Regions from separate parts of the Homo sapiens genome. Here region 2 is linked to region 1. A link means that fine-mapping ties the variant in region 1 to the expression of a gene that starts in the linked region. Tissue or cell type: testis. Region 1 holds a variant in brackets; the other region holds the start of a gene. All regions are shown on one strand. Distances are from middle to middle. Region 1 overlaps LINC00343 (long intergenic non-protein coding RNA 343). Region 2 holds the start of LINC00343 (long intergenic non-protein coding RNA 343).

Region 1 (5,393 bases):
AGTTTGACAGAAATGGCCAGTTATAATCTTGTAATTTAAATGCAGCTTCTTTAAAATATGAAGACTTCGAAGTTATTTATCCAAACCAACCTGATCATTTCTTAAGAGTGAATATACCTTGGAAGACGTGTCCTGCCTTTAGTAGCGTCACAATGGATTACATCCTCTATAAAGCAGTCTGGGGTGAGTGAAAGAGGGGGGCGGAAATTAGTGATTTCATTTGATTTAATTGTTGAATCATACTTAAGAACTTAATAAGGCTTTGTTCTTTAGAAAAACCAGAAACTGTAACTCAATGTGATTTTTGTTAAGCTCTTGATGCTTTTCCATGAAAGATTATTTTGAATTCTTAAGGTGGTAGAATAGGAAATTATCACATAAAAATACATGAAAATAGACGTGTACAGACATTTTTGTCAGGACAAAAGGAAAACCCTCTGCTCAGATAATGGCAGTTTATCAAGAATCCTGACGAAATGCTTGGTTTCTCCCTTCAATGGGCCACCCACTGCTGTCCAGGTAGGAAATTTCCTGCCATGGACAATCTGGAAGTGTCTGAGAGACTGTCTATACTCAGCTCAGTGAGTGAAAAGAGAAAACCTGTGATGGGCAAATAGTCTGGATGATGATACCAAGATTAATTTGTTCCGTCCATCTGACTGGGTGGAGTGCATATGTGCTATGTTGTTGTAGACTCCAAACATCTAAATTGTTCAGACCAGACCAATCTGGATATTTGGTGAAAGGAAAGCTCATAGAAAAATTTTTCAGAGTTTTTACTTTGTGCAATTTTATAATTTTATATTATCTAAAGTTTTAGCTTGAAAATATGAAAGACAAGCATCCAATTGATGGAAGAAGAAAAGAGAGTTTTCCTTTTAGATGATTGTGTCTGAACTATTAGGCTTATTATGCTTCTAAGTGCTTTAGATATTTTCATGTGTTTACTTCTCACAATATGACAGCTGAGGAAATGGAGGAACTAGAGGTCAGTAATTAGCCCAGGGACACATCTCAGTTGCACAGGCAGTATTTGAACACAGCATTCCAGCCATGGTGATGATGTTTTTAACAGCTGCATTATATTTCCATTTCATGGTCAAATACCTTCATTGAATAATTTAAAATTTCATTTAATTAAGTAGGTCTGGCATTATTCAGATCCAAATTTAAACCAGTTCAGCAAGCCATCTCAAAATACAGTAATTGGGTATTAAGAAATTATCTAGGCATTCTCTAAATTTATTTACATATTCAACGAGCATTGAAAATTATGTATCAGATATTCTGCCCAATCAGAGGCTAACATCTGCCACAAGACAAATATGGTGCCTGCCCCCATGGAGCTCATATTCGAATGGAGAAAATGTCAACAAGTATCCCACGGAGTGAACACTTCAAAAGGAGAAGCACAGGTTGGTGTGATTAGAAATGGCAGGTGTTTATGAACGGGGTGCCAGTGCAGGGAGAAAAGGCCTGTATCGAAGGACACTGTTGATGCTGAGATTTGAAGGGTGGGCAGCAATTAAACAGTTGATGGTGTGGAGAGTGAGCCACACTCCAGGATAGGAAGACCAACGTGATAAGTGAGCAGAGCAAAGAGGGACCCTGGCTGTCCAGGAGGCAGGGCTCAGTTACTCACGGCCCCACCGTCAAGCTGAAGATTGGAGACTTCATTTGGTAGGCAATAGGAAGCCACTTAAGGCTTAAGCCTCTAAGGACCATGCCCCAAATACAGGTTTAAAAAGGTTTCTCTGGTTATGGTTTTAGGTGAGAAAATCGAATTTGGACACCGTTGAGGAGACTATTGCAGTCATCCAAGCTCAAGATGGTGGAGCTTCATCCTTGAGAATAACCAATGGGGATAGATTTAAGAGACACTTAGAGTCTGCAGCCAACAGGGCTGAATGAGCAGTAAGTAGGAGCACAGCTGGGTGATGTGGTGGAGGGAAAGAGAGGAGTCAGTAACAGCTCCCCTGTTTCTGGCCTTAACATGTAACTAGGTACCTGTCTGGACTTCTGTGTCTCAAAATATGAAGCAGCCCATACTACTACTTCCTTTGTTTCTGCATCTGATGGAATAATAGAAACGTTTTCAATTTTTGTCAGAATACCTTCATAACACACACATACAATTAAAATAGCCTTTACATTTTTTACATTCCTATATTTATATTTACACTTAACATTATTGAGAAAAGCCCACACTTGATGTACATTGTACCAATTGTACTGTTCTGCTTGCCCCATCAGGAAAGCAACTCTGGAAAAAGTGTGGTTGTTTGCAGTTTCCTGGTTATTTAAATTGACTGTAAAAGGTGATATGGTTCTTCAATATTATTGAATAGTGTTGCTGAGACTTTCTTGAATGTTACTGAACTTCTGTAATAACATCACTCAACAACTGAGATTATCCTATCCTAAATAATGGTTGATGTGATGTAAATGCCAGTCCATCAGTCATACAGACAAAACCCAAGATGATGTTTTGATTGTCATTGAGACAAAGTTATTCTTGCAATAATAAGAATGGCCAACGCTCATGGAGTGCCTTCTACCTTCCAGGCACCAACTGAGAGCTTCACACATATTAACTCACTCAATCCTGCTAGCAATACTCCCAAAGATGGTAATATTTTTGTCTTCACTTTGGGGATGAGCAAAGTGAAGACATAGAAATTTAGTATCCTGACCAAAGTCAAATGCTGGATAAGTGGTGGAGACAGAATTGAAAGCTGTTAGGCTGCCTGGAGTGAACGT[C/T]ATCAGAAAAATGCAAGACCTCTTTTTACGGAGAGTTATTCTTCTGCCCCAAAGATGGAAAGCTAAATTTCTGATTGTGTATGTGAATAAGCAAATTTTAAAATAATCACATTTAATGCACATACACTGTGTCTTTTCCCTAGGAGAGTTATGATTCAGAAGATCATCTAAAATTGAACAGCTGCCACTACTGGCAATAAGTCTACTGCCATTTGGTAGATAACCTTCTTATCACACAGAAAAATATCAGTACAGACAAATAGACCGCAAAGAAAATGAGACCATCAGCAAAGAAGATAAAGAAGTTTGTACAAAGCAACTTTTTATAAATGGATGGCTGTCAGGCAAAAATAAATTTCCTGTGGACAAGACCAAGAGCAAGGCAAGAGGAAAATAAACATGTTTAAACTATTGGAGAGTCCATAATTTAAATATAAACTCTTCTGTTGAGTGGTAGTGTGCACCGAATCAGTTCCAGGGATGGCAATAAATGTTACGCTGCATTTTAGGAAGTATGGGAGAGGAAGCTGGGGCAAGAGGAACTAATGCATGATTAATGCTAGATATTTGGAATTGCCTAGAGCAAAGGAGGTTGGGGGCTGCAGAAAACTAGATCTTTGAAGATTTAATAGATTCCTCATTCTATGTCAGTCAGCCCACTTAGATTTGTCACGTGTTAGCTCTGTTTTTCTTTACATTTAGTATTTTTAGTAATGGCTTTTACATTTTTAAAAATCAGGTTGAATTTAAGCTAATGGACAATAAAACTTCAGGGTTAGAGATACTGTTTTTATTCAGCAACTAGATGAGGAACTGCAATGAATGAGAATTTGGAAATTGATGTTTTTATAGTGACACAAGCTGCATCACTATGAGATGTTCTTAGAGAGGAAATATTTGAAATTTTTAATATTTGCATTTTAAATTGGAATTGAGAAATGGGCAAATGAAGACATAGCTCAATGGTCAAATTAAACATTACTTGTTATTCTAAATGCAAGATTCTAGTTAAATTAGAAGGGTGGAAAAGTGTTGTTAATTATTTTTTCTTCATAGGAATGTAAAATCAACTATAAAAAATTAATGCATGAGACCCAGGGATTAGCATTACAGCAAATTCAGTGATTTTTGCAATCCATGCCTTTACAAAGAATGTGTGATTACTTTGTCTAGACTTTGTAGCACACTATAATAAATAGAGACTGACAATATCAATATATTTCATAAATACATGACTGGAATTTACAGTATTTCTGACGATTAATATTTTCTCAACTACCCTAGGTAAAGCAATGTGTACATCTTATAAAGGCAAATCTGTTGATAATGCCATTTGCTAGCAGACAAAAAAATAGTAATGGCATTTATTTGTCTGAATATATTCATCTTCTCAAGTAAACCTGGGAAATCTGAACTGAAATCCATAGATAATTCATTAGCTTCAGTTCATGGGTTTGTGTTCTTGGAGTCTTCTCATACATATAATATCCTAGCACAGTTTTTGTAAGATTGCTTCATGGAATGATTTCTTTTTCCTGAAAGGGCTAAGCTCATATAAAATCAACTATGATGGGTTACTTGTAAAGCTATCGATTGACATGGAGCTGAAATGGCTTCTTTCTAAAAAAATTCTTCTAGAGATACACACGTTTTTGTAATGAAACCACTAACAGCAGATGGGAGTTCATTGATACTTGTGCCAAAAGGCTTCCATTTTTTCAGTTTCTTAGAGCTGTGGATACAGCAAAGGCAACTAAAAATATAATTTTGGAGAACAATTAGTCACTCTCAGGAAATCTATAAATATTCTGGGAAAGCAACATGGCATACACATTCTGCTCCACAAAAAAGATGACTACATTATATTATATTATGTCATGATTTGCAATGTTATGTGATGCATACATGCTTCACAATTCTTTTTTACTTGTATATTTAGAAGATTCTAAAAAAAGAAATAGTTCTTTTGGCTGCAAAATTTGCAGAGAATGTCTGAATGCACCCTCTTCCCACCTCCTGCCACTGCGTGGCTGCCTCTCTGCATAGTTCTTCCATCACTCTCCCTAAATGAATGAAAGCTTTTGCTTGCCTCATACCTGTGAAGTTCCTCCACAAATACACATTCCTATAAAAATAAACCAAAAAAAAAAAGAGCTAGAGAAGCTGAACATGTGGAGAGCGCTTGTTTTTCTATAAGACGATCTTGATTTCTCTTAGGGATTTTGGGATATTGGCCAGCTCTGAAGTTCTTGGATGTGGTAAAATCATGGACACACCTACGCATGAGTGTGGGTATAGTCAGGAATTGGTTGACCCATCTCAGAAGTCAGCATTGGTCTAGGTACTCACAAATAGGAACTATAATATAAAATGTTGATATATAAATATTATTAATAGGTGGCATTGTAGCACACTGCCAATATTTCTTTAAAGGATAGCAATTTCTTGATATTAGTTATTTAGAAGTATAGTGGTTAAAATAACTTATATTCTGTGTTTATCTTTTCAAATCATGCTTATATATACTATTGTTTTCATCATTAGGAATTAGCTTTCAGAATACCCTTTCCAGACACCATGAATGATTTAACAAATGTTTATGCTTTGAGTTTCAGATATACCCGGCTTTTAAA
Region 2 (5,393 bases), 25 kb before region 1:
ACTGTTTACACAGATTACACACCATCTCTACATCATCTCTTCCTCCCTCAAGCTGCCATCTAATTTTAGTTACGTCAGTACTAGTGCCTTCATAATGATGGAGGAAAGGTATTAAGTTTCTTTCTTCTGGAGGCCCTGTTTTTAATAAATCAATCACAAGTGAGATTTATTAAAAACAAATGGCTAAAATGATTTTTAGATTATTCATATTTTATAGTAACTGCCTATCCGACCATTAATGACTACACATGAAGTTGTTCTATATTTATTTTGTCCAGTAAATTTTCTTCTAGATAAATATATGGAAAGACAATGGCTCTCTTAGTTAAAATGATATTTGACATAATTTCAAAGCTATGACAATTTCCTTATATTTGAAACACTTTCTGCTGACGCAGCATTTCTTTAAAGCATAGTTTATTCCATGACATGAAGATGGAAAAACCTCCTGAGTATGAAGGACCAGGTACCCAAATGTCCTGAGAAAGCCTCCTTCCCTTTTTATACCTCAGAAGCCAAATATGTTATTTACTCTAAAGCGTGTTCTTACATCTTGCTCCATAGCTCATTTAATGACATCACCATTCATTCAATGTCCAAACTGCTCTCATTGGATACACGAGGCTCTAGGGTAGTTTGAAGATTCCCTTAAGACCGAAACAAACAAGTAAACACCTCTGACTATGTTTGGTCGTTTAGTCTATGGTGGATCTGTAGATCCATTTTTTTTAAACTGAAGTTTGGATGTTTTATTTATTTTAGAAATGTAAAAGATTTCTGTGTCTGTGAATGTGCAGTGTTGTATGGTAGAGGAAAACATAGGCCCTGAAGTAAGATAGATCTATAAGTGACTTTACTTCTTTTATAGATGTTGGAGGAACTTTGAAAAAAATAGGTTTTTGGATAAAAGTTGCTTAAAATTTCAGATCTCTCTTCCCATATGTAAATGTAAATATTTATATATATTTAAATATTTGTCATTAAGATACTTTATTAATTAATTAATTAATTTATTTATTTATTGAAGCAGGGTCTCATTCTGTTGCCCAGGCCAGAGTGCAGTGGCACGATATCAGCTCACTGAAACCTCTGCCTCCCAGGTTTGAGCGATCGATTCTCCTGCCTTGGCCTCCCTAGTAGCTGGGACTATAGGCGCATGCTACCATGCCCAGCTAATTTTTGTTGTTTTTAGTAGAGATGGGATTTCACCACGTTCGCCAGGCTGATCTCAAACTCCTGACCTCAGGTGATCCTCCCGCCTCGGCCTCCCAAAGTGCTGGGATTACGGGCGTGAGCCACCACGCCCAGCCATGAAGATACTTATTAACAATATATAAAATGATAGTATCTGTCATTTAGAGGTGTTCAATTATTTACATAAACATGTGAATAGAAAAGAATATAAATCTACATTCTTGATGACATAAATGATAATATAAAATGTTATATATCCCAGAAGGTTCAGAAAAAATAAGACTAGATTTGAAATAAAATTATCTAATAAAGAAATATAAATGGGATGTAAAATCATGTCAACTACTCACCCTTTGAAGGAGCAGGCTTATGAGAAGCTAGGAAAGAATTCTTATGGTTCTTAAATAATTATCTGCAGGAATCAAGGTGCTCAGTACTTCCTCTTGTCTCCTTTAGTCTATGCAGATACACTTGGTAAATAGTCCCATTTCCCCTTCATGTCTTCCTTTCTTCCCTTCATTGTAATAATGACCTGTAAGTACAAGAAGAATTACCGTCAGGTAAAAGCCTTTTTCATAGATCCTGCAATGAAAATTATAATTACTTTAAAGCAGTAAAATTGTAATGCTAGTAGGTAATACTCAGACATGTTCTTCTCAAACATTCTTTTAACTCTTCCGTGATATTTTCTGAAGCTCTGAAAGAATTTCCCCTTTTAAAGAATTGACGTATAAAATATATGCACTCTCCCACTAGAGATACGAGCTACTTTAGTCCCGTATTTTATTATTGCAGGGATAGATAAGTGGACAGATGCTGTCAAGCATTCAAATAATCGACCTATAAAGGGCTAGACATAGAAAGACATAATTTCCCTGACCTCTCCAACACGCAGTCTATTCTCACTCTGGAGGATGAAATGCAAAGACTCAACTCCAAGAATGAAGGTACACAATGTGTTTCAGGGGAGTGGACGCATAGCTATGGCCTCACAGTTGGCACTTACTCTATGCCCTGGTGATACTGAATTTGGATATGATACACAACGATATTCAGCTTCTGGAGGGCCGGGGAAGGGTCCATTGCAAAATTGTGCGGAGTTGACCCTTGGGTAAAAATCAGAATTTACATTTTGGTTTTAAATTTTATAAGGTACAGTACTGTTCTATTTGCTCTACATAAATAATTTCATTTAATCTACTCAACAGCTTAGTGTTTTGTGTATTATTATTCATCTCAGTTTATAGCTGTGGAATCTGAGCTTTACAAAGGCTAGATAACTCATCTGAAGGCAATGCTTAGCACTGCTTAGCAGCCCAATAGTGGTACCAGCTCAGCACCATGGTTTTATTTATACTTTGTCTCTGTAGACCTTGCTTTATTCCGGACTTGAGAAGGAGTTCTCCAAGCATTTGGAAGAAACTCCTTTTCCATTGAAGTTGTTTAAAGAACACTTACCTTTTGAGTAAGCCAGAAGCTTTTTTTGAAAATACATGGAATGTGATGTTTTTTATTTTATAATGCCTACTTGAGCTGCATACCCAAGGCTACCTGTCAATAATCAGTCACTTTTCACAGATTATTTTTACTACAATCTATGACAAAGATGATCACACTGACCTATTTAGCCTCTTAAAACTCTGCTTTGTACTTGATTATCTAAAACACTATTTATTTCACTTCAGCCCAATAAATACTTATTGAGTGCCTGTTATGTGCCAGGCACAGATGCCAAGATATAACCTGTGATTTAATGGGGTAACATACATCATGCATTGCTTTAGGAGTGTGTTCACTGGGCAAAGGGAACAAAGAGGCACTTGGCTCACCCTAGATCAAGAGGAGAGGCTCTCCAGATTTGCTGACCTAGAAGGATAAGTCTGAAAGTAGGAGGGTGGGGAGAGCCAGATGAACAAGGGAGGTGAAAACGTGATCTAGGGAGGCATCCGAGTGAGCAAAGGCACGAGTGAGCCTGGTACACTTCTGGGCAGGCAGAAGGAAGGCAGTTAGGCTGTTAGGAAGGCAGTTAGGCTGCAGTGAATTCTACAAAGAGGCTATGGGAAAGAAACCTGGAAAGGTAGGGAGGTATGGATATGGACAAGCTATGCCAAGGAGCAGGGCTTTGTCATGGAGAGTGACTAGGTGCTTTTACATAGGAAAGTCACCTGATAATATTAAAACCTGTGAAATATCACTCTGGTGGAAGTGTGAATGAATTTGAAAGGGGTGTAACACTGTTCTACTTTGTTTACTCCTCAGTACCCTTGGCTGTGTACATTTGAGTAAAGAGAGCACTATAAAATCAAAAACCAATGAAATGGTTTCCAGAACACAGAACTATTAAGCTTAAGAAAAGGACAGAAGGAACTGAAGAGAGAGGAACTGTTTTGGAGCATCACACTTCCACCTCAGAAGAAATAAGGAAGGAAGGAGGAGGGTGTTCCCACGGCTCTTCAACCAGGCCGGCTCTTCAGCCTACATCCCCATCTCATCAAGTAAAAGGGATTTTTCAACTGGACCAACCAGATGGTTTAACAGTGCACTCCCACACCATTCAACTACGCAAGGGAGATACACTTAACATATGCAGTCGTATAACACCTACTAACATTTTCAAACATTAAACCTTTAAAAAAGAGTTCTAAAGAAATAGAAGCTTGAAGTATCATCTCTCAAGTATATAGACACTACTTCATGGTGTGGTAATATATGCATATAGAAGCTAGTAAACACCTCCAGGAGATGCAAAAGGAATTAGAACTGCCACAAGGTGCAAGCAAAACCTTGAGGTAAGCCTGTTCTTTACTCAGTACATTTTTCCTCTTCGACATTGTAGGTATGTTATCTCCATCATCCGTATTTGTCTATTGCAGTCTCCATTGATGGTGAAGTATTTTCACTATTTGGCATGTCTTCTCTAGTACCTAGAGCAGTGCGTTGCATGCAGTAGCAGGTTTATAAACATTTGCGAGTAAAACATCCAACCTGATACTCAAGGTAAACTCCTGAACCAAACACCCAGAGTAATGTGAATGTTTTTCTATACTCTAGAGTTTATGGCTAGAAATTGCACGGAATGAACTGCATCCTAAACTGGGGTCGGGAAGGTGGGAAAATGAGTCCAGTGATGAAAGGAAGAAGCTGTGCAAGCTATGAAAAAACCTGGTGTGGGAAACTTTTTGTGTGATGTCTGTATATTTTTTTCTTATTTTTTAACAGCAGGTAGCTGTCTTCTCATATATAATTAATTTCCAAACCTCCATTTTTGATGTATGTCATAAAACTGGCATTTTAATTATTTATTTTCAATGTATTTTCTGTTCTGTTAATGAAGATTACAATGAAGAGGAGGGGGAAATCAATTTTTTTAAAAAAAGGAAAAATATAAAATTCAGACCTAAACCTATTTTTCTTCTTCCGATCTATTTACCCAGCTTCATCTTCATATTACCTGTAGCCCTGTGATGCAGGACAGCGCTGAATCAGTTCTCAAAGTCATCCAGTTCAGGAAGCTTTCTAGATACTCACACTTGCCCTCAAACATACCCCTTCTGCGCGCACACACACACACACACACACACACATCTTCCTTCTCTAAATGCCCCATGATACTGGATTTATCCTTTTATCACTCTTGTTTACGATGTGCTACTGTAATTGAGTATATCCTATGTATCAAGCTCTGTGTTACCTATTTTAAGGATTTAAAATGATTTAGTTGTTTGTACACAATTTGTGTAACATCCTTTCCTATGAGAGCAAAAAGACAAAATTTGCATCTGATTTTTAAAACATGATATACATACATGTTTCAGAGAGCATGTATCTAATTAAATATTTGATGAGTGCAGAAGAATGAGTGAGAGTATGAATGTCTGTAAAAGATTATTTGGTTATTACATTAAACCAGATAGTCTCTTGGTAAACTTTAAGTTACATTTATGCGGACAGAATTACAGATTCTCCACTGGCACACATGTTGCAGCATTTACTATCTTCTTTCATCTGATCAGATGTCAAAAGGAGATTTTTGAGCCATCATTTAGGTAATTGTTCATGAAGCCCAGACCAAAATATTGTGATAAATGTAGTTAAAATTATCTTTTTGTTAACTGCTATATTAGGAAAAAGTTGATACAAAATAAATTTTACATGTTTAAAATGTACCACTTAACAGGTTTTGGCATATGTTTACCCCT

The links. PIP is the estimated chance that this variant, and not a neighbour inherited with it, causes the effect. A credible set is the group of variants that fine-mapping cannot tell apart.
Region 2: it holds the start of LINC00343, and the variant in region 1 is the best candidate, but not a certain one, in a credible set for the expression of LINC00343 in testis (GTEx, PIP 0.78).

The regions. Positions count from the first base shown.
Region 1 is chr13:105,728,545-105,733,937 of GRCh38, forward strand. All of the region lies in intron 3 of LINC00343 (long intergenic non-protein coding RNA 343), which reads left to right. Among named protein-coding and RNA genes, the nearest start is that of LINC00343, 24 kb to the left of the region's middle. The variant C/T (reference allele first, on the strand shown) is at 2,761.
Region 2 is chr13:105,703,647-105,709,039 of GRCh38, forward strand. It overlaps LINC00343 (long intergenic non-protein coding RNA 343), which reads left to right and starts at 3,184. Exons shown (of 4, transcript NR_046391.2): 1 at 3,184-3,271; 2 at 3,454-3,983; 3 at 4,068-4,191. LOC105370345 (a long non-coding RNA gene) reads right to left here and starts at 3,210. Exons shown (of 7, transcript XR_931698.2): 1 at 3,024-3,210; 2 at 1,545-1,726.